Linked DNA regions of Homo sapiens. The protein of the gene in region 3 purifies or fractionates together with the protein of the main gene of each other region. This does not show direct contact. Each region holds a gene or a part of one and is shown on either strand. Other genes may lie near its edges.

Region 1 (3,655 bases), on a different chromosome or scaffold from region 3:
CCTAAGCTGCTACTCCTCCTGGCAGGGCTCTCTGGGAACGCAATGATCCCCACTACTAACGCTCAGGTTATCAAGAGGATGCCCGAGGGTGAGGTCATAGCAAAAGTGGCCTCTTTGGAACAAAAGAGAATAGGCACTGGTAAGAAACGTGACTCTGAGGAATTGGAACCTCGTGGTGGTACCAGCTTTGCCTCTGAACTCTCATTCAACAAACCAGGAATAGCCGGACAGCCAATTCATAAGCACATTGCCAAAATGAGGCTATGTAGCCCTTCCAGGCAGGCGGCCACAGCCCAGCCAAATCCCAGTTCACACAGCAACAGAGGCAAAAAGCTGAATGCGTCATCAACAGATACAGTGGTGGAGGGGTGGATCTACAGCAAGTATGTAGGGAAAATATCCTGTATAATTCAAGATTATCCAAAAACTTGCTTAGGAAACAAACATATGGGTTCTCAAAAGGTTCAAAACAGTATTTCCTCCAATTTTGGTGAAGCTCGCCTGAGCACCTGGTAAGCAGCCAGCTTGTATTCAAGCCATGCTATACGTAATTGTGTTTTTATTTATTTTTTAGAAACAGGGTCTTGCCCTGTCACCCAAGCTGGAGTGCACTGGCATGATCATAGCTTACTACAGCCTCCAACTCCTGGGCTCAAGTAATCCTCCTGCCTCAGCCTGCTGAGTAGCTGGAACTACAGGCACATGCCACCACACCCGGCTAATTTTTTAACTTTTTGTAGAGATGGGATCTCGCTATGTTGCCCAGGCTGGTCTCAAACTCCTGGCCTCAAGGAATCCTCCAGCCTTGACCTCCCAAAACACTGGGATTACAGGCATGAGCCACCGCGCATGGCCAAACCATTTGTTTTTAAACACTGTACCTCATTCAGTGTGGCAGAATGCCCACACTTTGAAAGGTATATAGAAACAAGAGTCAAGGAAGGGGCTGGCAGATTCACAAACCCCAGGCACAGCCACCCAGGGACAAATACTTGCTGAGTGGAAAGGCAGACAGAATCACCTGAACTACTTTTCTTCCTATCTACCGCTCCCTTCCCCCTGCCCTTTATTTCTCCTCAAAGCATGTAGCTGAATGAGCAAAGGTGCACATAATAGGCCCCTACAGTATTTACTGAGCATCTTTTATGTATCAGACACACTGAGTGATTCTGTGTGGTCAGAGAGCTGCTGGATAAAACCTATCCCAGAACCAGCGCTTCAGGCTGCAAAGCCAGGATTAGGCCCTACCATTTACCAAGTAACCCTGGCTTCCTGTGCCTATACTCTGGTCAAGGAGCCTCGTATCCTGGCTCCTTCCAGAGACATTCCTGAAGATGCAGGGTGGTCCTCAGACCACCTCAGTGAAGGCAGATAAAGCTGCATGGAGCGAACACTGAGGTTCGACCGTGCTCTACTGCAGCCTGGCCCCAACCTCTGGGGTTAAGTGGGACCCTTCATGTGGCATTCAAAGTTCCTTCATTCACCCACCAAAAGATTCTCACAGATCCCTCTGCTCCAGGTACCAGAAACATCTATCTGGCTCTATCTTTCCCAGGGAGAGGAAAACACACTCTAGTTTACAAAACCTAAACTCAGAGACCTATGTTCTCCTGGCATCATGAACCACCTTCCCCACTTGATGGGTTGAGGAGGTTCTCTGCCAGCCTTAATGCCTCCTACTCTAAAAACTGACCACCTCGTTTTCTTCCTGAAAAGGACAGGTCTAGTCATTGTCATTTTCCTGTTTATAGAATACGCAACATGGAAATTAAAAAGTCCCAATCTTCAACTGTTACAAACCTTCAGCCTGTTGAAAACTACCAAAGCTCCAATCCTTCCTCATGGCAGGGAGGCTGTATGCAGCAGGGATTAGGAGTGTGGGCTTCAGTGGCCGGGCACAGCGGCTCACGCCTGTAATCCCAGCACTTTGGGAGGCCAAGGCAGGTGAATCACTTGAGCCCAGGAGTTCAACACCAGCCTGGGCAACATGGCGAAACCCATCTCTACTAAAAACACAAAAATTGGCCGGGCGCAGTGGCTCACGCCTGTAATCCCAGCATTTTGGGAGGCTGAGGCAGGCAGATCGCGAGGTCAGGAGATCAAGACCAGCCTGGCCAACATGGCGAAACCCCATCTCTACTAAAAATACAAAAATTAGTGGAGGGTGCCTGTAATCCCAGCTACTTGGGAGGCTGAGGTAGGAGAATCGCTTGAACCTGGGAGGCAGAGGTTACTGAGAGCTGAGACTGTGCCACTGCACTCCAGCCTGGGCCAAAAGAGCAACTCTGTCTCCAAAAAAAAAAAGAAAAAATTAGCTGGGCATGGTGGTGTGCTCCTGTAATCCCAGCTACTCGGGAGGCTGAGTCAGGAGAGTCACTTGAATCCAGGAGGTGGAGGTTGCAGTGAGCTAAGATCATGCCACTGCACTCCAGCGTGGGTGACAGAGCAAGACTCTGTCTTAAAAAAAATAATAACAAACAACAAAAAAAAAACACTTGAGCTTCAGAGCTGGAACTAGACAGACTTGGGCTTGAGCCCAGCTCTGTCCCATGCTAACTGTGTGATCTCAGGCAAGTTACTTAACTTCTCTGTGCCTGGTCTTTTCTTAATTGTAGCCTCCTCCCAGTGTTGGGAGGGTTAAATGAGGTAATTCAGGTCAAGGGTTTAGCACAGAAACTGACCCATTCAAAGTGCTCAATCATATCACCATTAGGTACCTTTGCTATCAGAACACGGATGCAGAACAGCTTCTCATTTCATCCTGAAAGCAGCCTGAGACCTACACCTTCATGGTCCTCGCTGTCACAGGTACTAGATTTCAAAGGATGTGGTCAAGGTGACACAGCCACTCCCTTGTCCACAATGCATGCCCATAAATAGTAGTAGCTCTTAGCTAGCCACCAGATCTGCTGTCACCTCTCCCCACCTGAGCACAGGCTCCTGAACCCTCCACAGGGAGTGTGGTGGTTAACAGTGGTTCAGACATTCTGTGCCTCAATTTGAGTACAGGCTCCTTCATTCTCTAGCTGCATGACTTCGGGGCCACTTAACTTCTCTATGCCTCAGTTCTATCAGCTGTAAAATGAAGATGATAATCGCACCTTCCTTGGGATCACCTAGAACAGTGCCTGGCAAACAGAAAGCATTACTTTTTTTTTTTTTTTTTTTAAAGAGACAGGGTCTCCCCGTGTTGCCCAGGCTGGAGTGCAGTAGCCATTCACAGCGTAGTCATAGTGTACTACAGCCTCAAACTCCTGGGCTCAAATGATCCTCCTGCCTCAGCCTCCTGAGTAGCTGGGACTACAGGCACATGATACCATGGCCTGGCTTTTTTTTTTTTTTTTAAACAAAAGAGATTGTCTTTGGGACCTCAAATTCAGCACTGTCTCAAACCCAACTCATTTCAGCATCCCTTACCCCAGCTTCCTCTCCTACCACTAACCCGCTGTGGGGAATTTGGCTGCCCCCAAACATTCCAGGTCCTTAAACACTTGTGGGCCAGCCCCCATACCCTAGGTCTGGCAAGCCCCACCCAGCTCTGAGGTCACTGCCACTCCGGAGACTTTCTTTCTTTAGCCCTTTCCGCAGTACCTGCAGCAAACTCCTCACTGTTTCCCATCAGCACACTGTCCACTCTCAAGTGTTGGCAAGGATG
Region 2 (3,655 bases), on a different chromosome or scaffold from region 3:
ACACTTTAATATGAGAGCCTTTGTACTTTTAGTCCTGGAATACTATTCCTCTAGGTATCTATTTGGCTTACTCCCCCACTTCCTTCATGTCTTGGCATAAGTGAAGCCTGCCTAAACCACCCGATTTTATTTTATTTTATTATTTTTTGGCACAGTCTCACTCTGTTGCCTGGGCTGGAGTACAATGGCATGATCATGGCTCACTGCAGCCTGCAACCTCCCAGGCTCGAGTGATCCTGCTGTCTCAGCCTCCTGAGTAGCTGAGACTACAAGTGCATGCCACCATGCCTGGCTAATTTTTAAAAACTTTTTTGTAGAGATGGGGTCTCACTATATTGCCCAGGCTGGCCTGAAACTCCTGGGCTCAAGCCATGCTCCTGTCTCAGCCTCTTAAATTGCTGGGACTACTGGCATGGGTCACCATGCCTGGCCCCTTCCTATTTTAAACTGCATTTCTGATTCTCCTTAACCTGACATATTTGCCCATGTATATCATCTAAGATACTCGAATTTACTTGTGTTTATTTAATCTGTTTCTCCTCATTAGAATGTAAGCTCCATGAGGGCAGGAATTTTTAACTTTTTGTTCAGTGATATATCAGTGCTGGCTGGGCGCGGTGGCTCACGCCTGTAATCCCAGCACTTTGGAAGGCCGAGGCAGGCAGATCACTTCAGGTCGGAAGTTTGAGACCAGGCTGGCCAACATGGTGAAACCCTGTCTCTACTAAAAATATAAAAATTAGCCAGGTGTGGTGGCCCGTGCCAGTAATCCAAGCTACCCAGGAGGCTGAGGCAGGAGAATTGCTTGAACCTAGGAGGCAGAGGTTGCATTGAGCCGAGATTGTGCCTCTGCACTCCAGCCTGAGCAACAGAATGAGACTCTATGACTCTATATCCAAAATATATACATACATATATATATATATATATATATATATATAAAATTGCCTAATAGTACCTGGCACGTAGTGCTTAATAATAAATATTTACTGAATGAACGAATGAATTATAATCTGTAGACTTTAAGAATTTATGTAATTGGAACCTTTTTCTGTGGCTTGTTAATCTTATTCTGGATAGTTGAGTTTACTTGATAAATGGCATAAATATATAAGGAGAGTACTGTATCTTAATATTGCATGTATGGTAAGTAATAAATTGATTGTTAAACTGATTTTTATGGAACACTTTGGAGTTTAAGTCCTTTAATTATTTAGTATTTTAAAGTATAAAGTCTGTAGTTTTAAGTGTCTAACCTATTTTTTGTTGAGATCTGAAAACTTAATATAAGTGTGTCTGTTGGTATTGCTTGGTTAGAGAGCTAAAATATTTCTAATTGGGTTTATTTTGTATTTTGCCTATAGATACACTCTGTGCAGTTTTAGAGAGAGACACACTCAGTATTCGAGAAAGTCGACTTTTTGGAGCTGTTGTACGCTGGGCAGAAGCAGAATGTCAGAGACAACAATTACCTGTGACTTTTGGGAATAAACAAAAAGTTCTAGGAAAAGCACTTTCCTTAATCCGGTTCCCACTGATGACAATTGAGGAATTTGCAGCAGGTAAGGGTATAAATTCACCAAAATCTATTTGAAACTGTTTTAATAGTCTGTCAGGGCTGGGCCTGGTGGCTCACACCTATAATCCCAGCACTTTCGAGAGGCCAAGGCAGGTGGATCACTTGAGGACAGGAGTTCGACACCAGCCTTGTCAACATGGTAAAACCCCGTCTCTACTAAAAGTACAAAAAATTAGGCATGGTGGTGGGCACCTGTAATCTCAGCTACTCAGGAGGCTGAGGCAGGAGAATCGCTTGAACCCAGGAGACGGAGGTTGCAGTGAGCCGAGATCATGCCGTTGCATTCCAGCCCGGGCGACAGAGCGAGATTCCACGAGACTCCATCTCAAAAAAAAAAAAAAATTCTATCAGTCTCCCTGCGCCAGAGAGGAAAAGAAGCTTTTATTCAGTACTAATCACATGACAAACATATATGCGAGTGTATGATTTTAAGCCCTTCAAAATTATATTATCCACATTGTATAGGTTAGAGAAGTAAAGTTGGGAGAGGTTGAGTGCCTTACCCCAGGTTATGACAGATCTTTTTGGCTTTTTTTTTTTTTCTTTTTTTTCTTTTTTTGAGACAGAGTCTTCCTCTGTTACCCAGGCTGGAGTGCCGTGGCACAAACGCATTTCACTGAAGCCTCCACCTCCCAGGCTCAATCAATCCTCCCACCTCAGCCTCCCAAATAGCAGGGACTATAGGTGCACACTACCATGCTCAGCTAATTTTTTAATTTTTTTTATAGAGACAGGATTTCACCATCCTGTCAGGGCTGGTCTTGAACTCCTGGGCTCAAGCCTCCCAAAGTGCTGGGATTACAGGTGTAAGCCACCACGCCCAGCCTCTGTTTGACTCTTAAGGTCGATGCTTCTGATTAAAATCAGACAGATCTGTTTTGAGTCTCCATGACCACTTCTGACCTGTTTTCATTACCCAGGTCATAATTGACTATTATCTGCCTTTAAATCACGGCCAGATTGATTCAAAAGAAAGAAAAGTCTCATGGTTTTTTTTTTTTTTTTTTTTTTGAGACAGGGTCTCCCTCTGTTGCTCAGGCTGGAGTGCGGTCGTGCGATCTCAGCTCACCGCAACGTCCATCTCCTGGGTTCAAGCGATTCTCACACCTCAGCCTCCTGAGTAGCTGGGATTACAGGCGTGCACCGCCACAAACTAATTTTTGTATTTTTAGTAGAGACAGAGTTTCACCATATTTGTCAAGCTGGTCTTGAACTCCTGACCTCAGGTGATCTGCCCACCTCGGGCTCCCAAAGTGCTGGGATTATAGGCATGAGCCACTGTGCCTAGCTCTCATGATTTTTTAAAAAATAATTTCAACTTTTATTTTAAATTCGGGGTAACGTGCAGATTTGTTTCATGTGTATATTGTGTGATGCTGAAGTTTGAGGTACAGTTGATTGCATCACTTAGGCAGTGAGCATAGTGTCCAGTAGTTAGTTTTTTAACTCTTTTCCCCCTTCTGTCCCTTCCTCTTTTCCCCTTTTTAACAGTCCTCAGTGCTTATTGTTTCCATCTTTATGTCCATGTGTATCCAATGTTTAGCTTCCACAAGTGAGAACATACGGTATTTGGTTTACTGTTTCTGCATTAACTCACTTAAGATAATGGCTTCTAGCTGCATCCATGTTGCTGCGAAAGGCATGATTTTGTTCTTTTTTATGGCTTTATAGTATTCTGTGGTGTGTGTGTGTCCGTGTGTGTGTGTGTGTGTGTGTGTGTGTGTGTCACATTCTCTACCCAGTCTACCACTGATGGGCACCCAGGTTGAGTCAGTGTCGTTGCTGTGATGAACATATGAGTGCATGTGTCTTTTGGTGGAACATTTTCTTTTCTTTTGGATATATAACCAGTAATGGGATTGCTGGGTTGACTGGTAGTTCTATGTTTTTTGGTTTTTTTGGGAGGTTGTTTGTGGTTTTTTTTTTTTTTTTTGAGACAGAGCCTCACTCTGTCACCCAGGCTGGAGTACAGTGGTACAATCTTAGCTCACTGCAACTTCCACCTCCTGGGTTCAGGCAATTCTCCCACCTCAGCCTCCTGAGTAACTGGGACTACATACGCCCGCCCGCCACCAA
Region 3 (3,655 bases):
ATTGAAATAAGGTCCATTCTCTTGAAATAGCCATGTGATGGTTTTAAACTATGTTCACAAATTCTTTGGGTGTACAAATAGTTCTAAGAATATTACAGAAAGGTCCCATATACCCCACACCCACATTTTCCTGAATGTGTCTCAATCTGGGTTTGTCCTGTGTTTTCTTCATTATTATTAGACTGAAGGGATGGGTTTTGGGGAGGAAGACCACAGGGGTGAAGTGCCCTTCTCCTCACATCATATCAAGGGTACACACCATCAGCATGACAGCACTGCTGCTGTTAATCTTGATTACCTGGCTGAGGTAGTGTTTGTCAAGTTTCTCTACTGTAAAGGTCCTCCCCTTCCATCCATAATATAGTCTTTGGAAAGGAGTTATTATGTACAGCCCACATTTAAAGGGTAGAGAGTTATTCTCCATCTCCTTAAGAGTGGAGAGTATCTACATAAATTATTTGGAATTCTACATGGGAGATTTGTCTATTTGCCTCCCTTTATTTATTCATTCAGTCGTTTTTTAAATTTTTTAAATTGATAATAATTGTACATATTTACGGGGTACATAGTGATGGGATGATACATATATCATGATCAGAGTAATTAGCATATTCATCTCAAACATTTATCATTTCTTTGTGCTGGGAACATTCGATATGCTGCGTCTAGCTATTTGAAACCATATATTGTAATTAACTATAGACAACCTACAGTGCCACAGAACAGTACTAGAACTCACTCCTCCCATCTAGCTATAATTTTTGTATCCTTAACAAATCTCTCCCTGTTCCCTCAACCTCTGAGACCTTTACTTTCTACATTACATTTTTTATTCTGTTCAGATTCTAAGCCAATAATATATTGCTTTAAAATTAAAAATAAAATGCATCAAAAATTTTTAAAGTGCTTTCATAGTTACTACCTAAGTTTATTCATGCCAAAAAAAACTATGCAGAAAGCTTTAAATAATGGCCTACTCAAAGCTTCCCTATGATGAGATACCATTATCTCTTTTTTATAGACGAGAAAGCTGGGTCATTGAGACATTCACAAATTTGTCCAATTTCTCCCAGCTCATGAATGGTAAAGCTAGAATTCAGAGCCAGAGCTGCTTTTATCCTCTTTACTGATTCCACTTATTTAGCTAATCTTTCTAAAAATTTATGAAGCAAAGAGGGAAGGTTTTAATGTAAAGTTGTCAGTGACAGAGATTTGAGTTAACTGGGTCAGGATTACTGATTTTAAGTCCATGATTGTTCCTACTTTGGCCAGTGTGCACACAAGGAGAGATCAATCTGCTCCACTTAAAGTTCACATTAACGAAAGTGTTTTTCCACGTTTCCTATACCTGTTTCATATTAACTTGCAAGTATTTTTTTAACTTCTTAAGAAAGCAAATATCTCTGAACATTAAGAAAATTCTGAAAATGCTCCATCTTTCTGCAAGATATAAACTACTCTTTAACTGGGCTGAAAGTTAATAGTTAAAAGATTGTATCAGCCCAAAACCATAAAAAAGGCAAATGTTTTTCCAGTTTGTCTGCTTGCAAATCTTGGTGCCCTTTACAGAAATTCGATAAGACTGGCATTCTAAATTAGAAATGCATGTGAATAGAACATTTAATTTGATACTGCAGTAATTTGATTAAATGCACAAAGGGAGTTGTGTGGATTAATTGAAGAAGCACTGGAATATCAGCTTTGGGAATGAACTTCAATCTCATCATGGGTCCTAGATGAAATGATATTGCTAGTATTGACTATGCTTCCTGTGATTAAATATTTATGAGGCAGCTTAGTTTACTAAATATAACATTTAATACAGCTTCAACTTATTGCTACCTTTTCTTTCAATCCCTAGAGTGAAATTTTTCTTAGCCTGGCTTCTTAAAACTAAAAAAATATTTAAAAACTAAAACTTTAGCTAGTTTCTTATCTTTATATTCATCACCCCTTGTTCCACTGAAAAAAAACAAACAGGGAATCACACTATTTTAAACGACTACTGCATTTTGTCATTTCTTTACTTTCCTTTAGCTGACACCTTGTGTGGAATTAAAGAATGCAGAGAATCAGTATTAACTCTCGGGATCCTGGACCTAGTGTAAATGGAGCTCTCTACGAACTCTTCAGGAGTCCCTCAACTTACCCATCAAAATGTTTTACAGATTGCATCATGTAAGTTACTAAAATTACAGTAAATGGCATTTAATGTTTACAGTGCTTGCTCCACTCCCAGCAAGTTGGAAGCAAATGAAAAATGGAGCATCAGAACTACACCCCATCAGTATGATTGCTATTTAGAGCACAAAATTATGAACAAAATTTGAGAGTTGGGTGTTTTTAAGCAGACTCATGATAATTAATCAAAGAAGGACAGATTCTGGGTTCCATAATACCTATCTGGTGGTAATGCACATTTATTCATTCAACAAATACTTATAAACTCCATTCTGTGACAGGCAGTATTGTAGGTATTAGAGAAATAGATGTAAATAAGCCAAACAAAATCACTGCCTTCATGGAATTTACCGTGGAATGTGCTTAAACTTACTATTAGGAGAGACTGGTATGATGTTTAGGACTTGTAATATGTTCAAATCTCTTATATATACCTTTTATTTAATCTGTGCCATATATGCCATCCATAAATTTTTTTGTTGTTAATCCATAAGTTCTGTTTCTTAATCTGATGGAAGTATTTAAGCATGGAATATATTAGAAGGCAGTCCAGTTATCGCTAATAATTCCAATGATTAAATTAACTTCCCAAATAAAATTCAACTTTCTTACCTCTTCAATACTTGTTAGCTTGAGATGAGCAGCTGCTTCATCTTTGGTAAGAAGAATGCAGTTCCAGGGGGACCACTCCAGGGATTTATTCCATCTGACCATGACCAGATCACTGAGATTGTCGCAAGCACTGAGGACTGACTGGGACGCCCAGATGTTCTCTGTCAGGTACTGAATGTCTTGTAGCTGCATGTCAAAGCAAGTTTTAAAAACAATGTAGTTTAAATTTGTTTAAGATTATTATATTACTTGAGCAAATAATTAAATTATAGAGTATTTTTAAGTGAATTATTATTCACTAGGTTTCAATGACACATAGCCCCTTATTTTTCACTAAACTTCTGTTCATTTTGCCTAAACTACATTATCAGTCTCACAGTTGCGTCCCCATCTCTAAACCAGAGTAAGCAGTATAAATTCATTTCAGTATGCTAATTTTACCTGAATATAATCTTAATAATACTATAATGTTACCATAATAAACATATGGTATTGAATGATCTTTAAAATTCATTAGTAAGTACCATCTTAATTTCAGGGCCATTGTAGGGACCTTTTAAAACCTTTTACTGCCATTTTACAAATGAGGAAGCTGAGATTTTTTTTTTTTAATATGGAACACTTCACAAGTTTGCATGTCATCCTTGTCCAAGGGCCATGCTAATCTTCTCTATATGGTTCCAATTTCAGTATATGGGCTGCTGAAGCAAACACAGGAAGTTGAGATTTAATAAAGATAAGTAATTCACTTAGTGTTAATTAAAAGACTTGGTTGTTTTAATCAAAAAGAGGGGTAATGAAATAGCTGTTTAAAACTTTTTAAAAAACGTAAATCTTATCAGCTAAAACTCTTGGAATGACT

Evidence for each region.
Region 1: the proteins of IQUB (region 3) and FAM83D purify together in Homo sapiens (co-immunoprecipitation; one large-scale study listed by IntAct). This does not show direct contact.
Region 2: the proteins of IQUB (region 3) and BTBD1 purify together in Homo sapiens (affinity purification with mass spectrometry; 2 studies listed by BioGRID and IntAct, with this or other methods). This does not show direct contact.

What each region holds. Positions count from the first base shown.
Region 1 is NC_000020.11:38,929,304-38,932,958, reverse strand, and holds part of FAM83D (protein FAM83D), read right to left. Parts: intron 1-3,655.
Region 2 is NC_000015.10:83,039,635-83,043,289, reverse strand, and holds part of BTBD1 (BTB/POZ domain-containing protein 1), read left to right. Parts: intron 1-1,364; coding exon 1,365-1,562; intron 1,563-3,655.
Region 3 is NC_000007.14:123,454,588-123,458,242, forward strand, and holds part of IQUB (IQ motif and ubiquitin-like domain-containing protein), read right to left. Parts: intron 2,980-3,655; coding exon 2,794-2,979; intron 2,690-2,793; coding exon of another isoform or gene 2,606-2,689; exon of another isoform or gene 1-2,605. UniProt on the Homo sapiens protein: Adapter protein that anchors the radial spoke 1 (RS1) complex to the A microtubule of outer doublet microtubules in axonemes. The triple radial spokes (RS1, RS2 and RS3) are required to modulate beating of the sperm flagellum.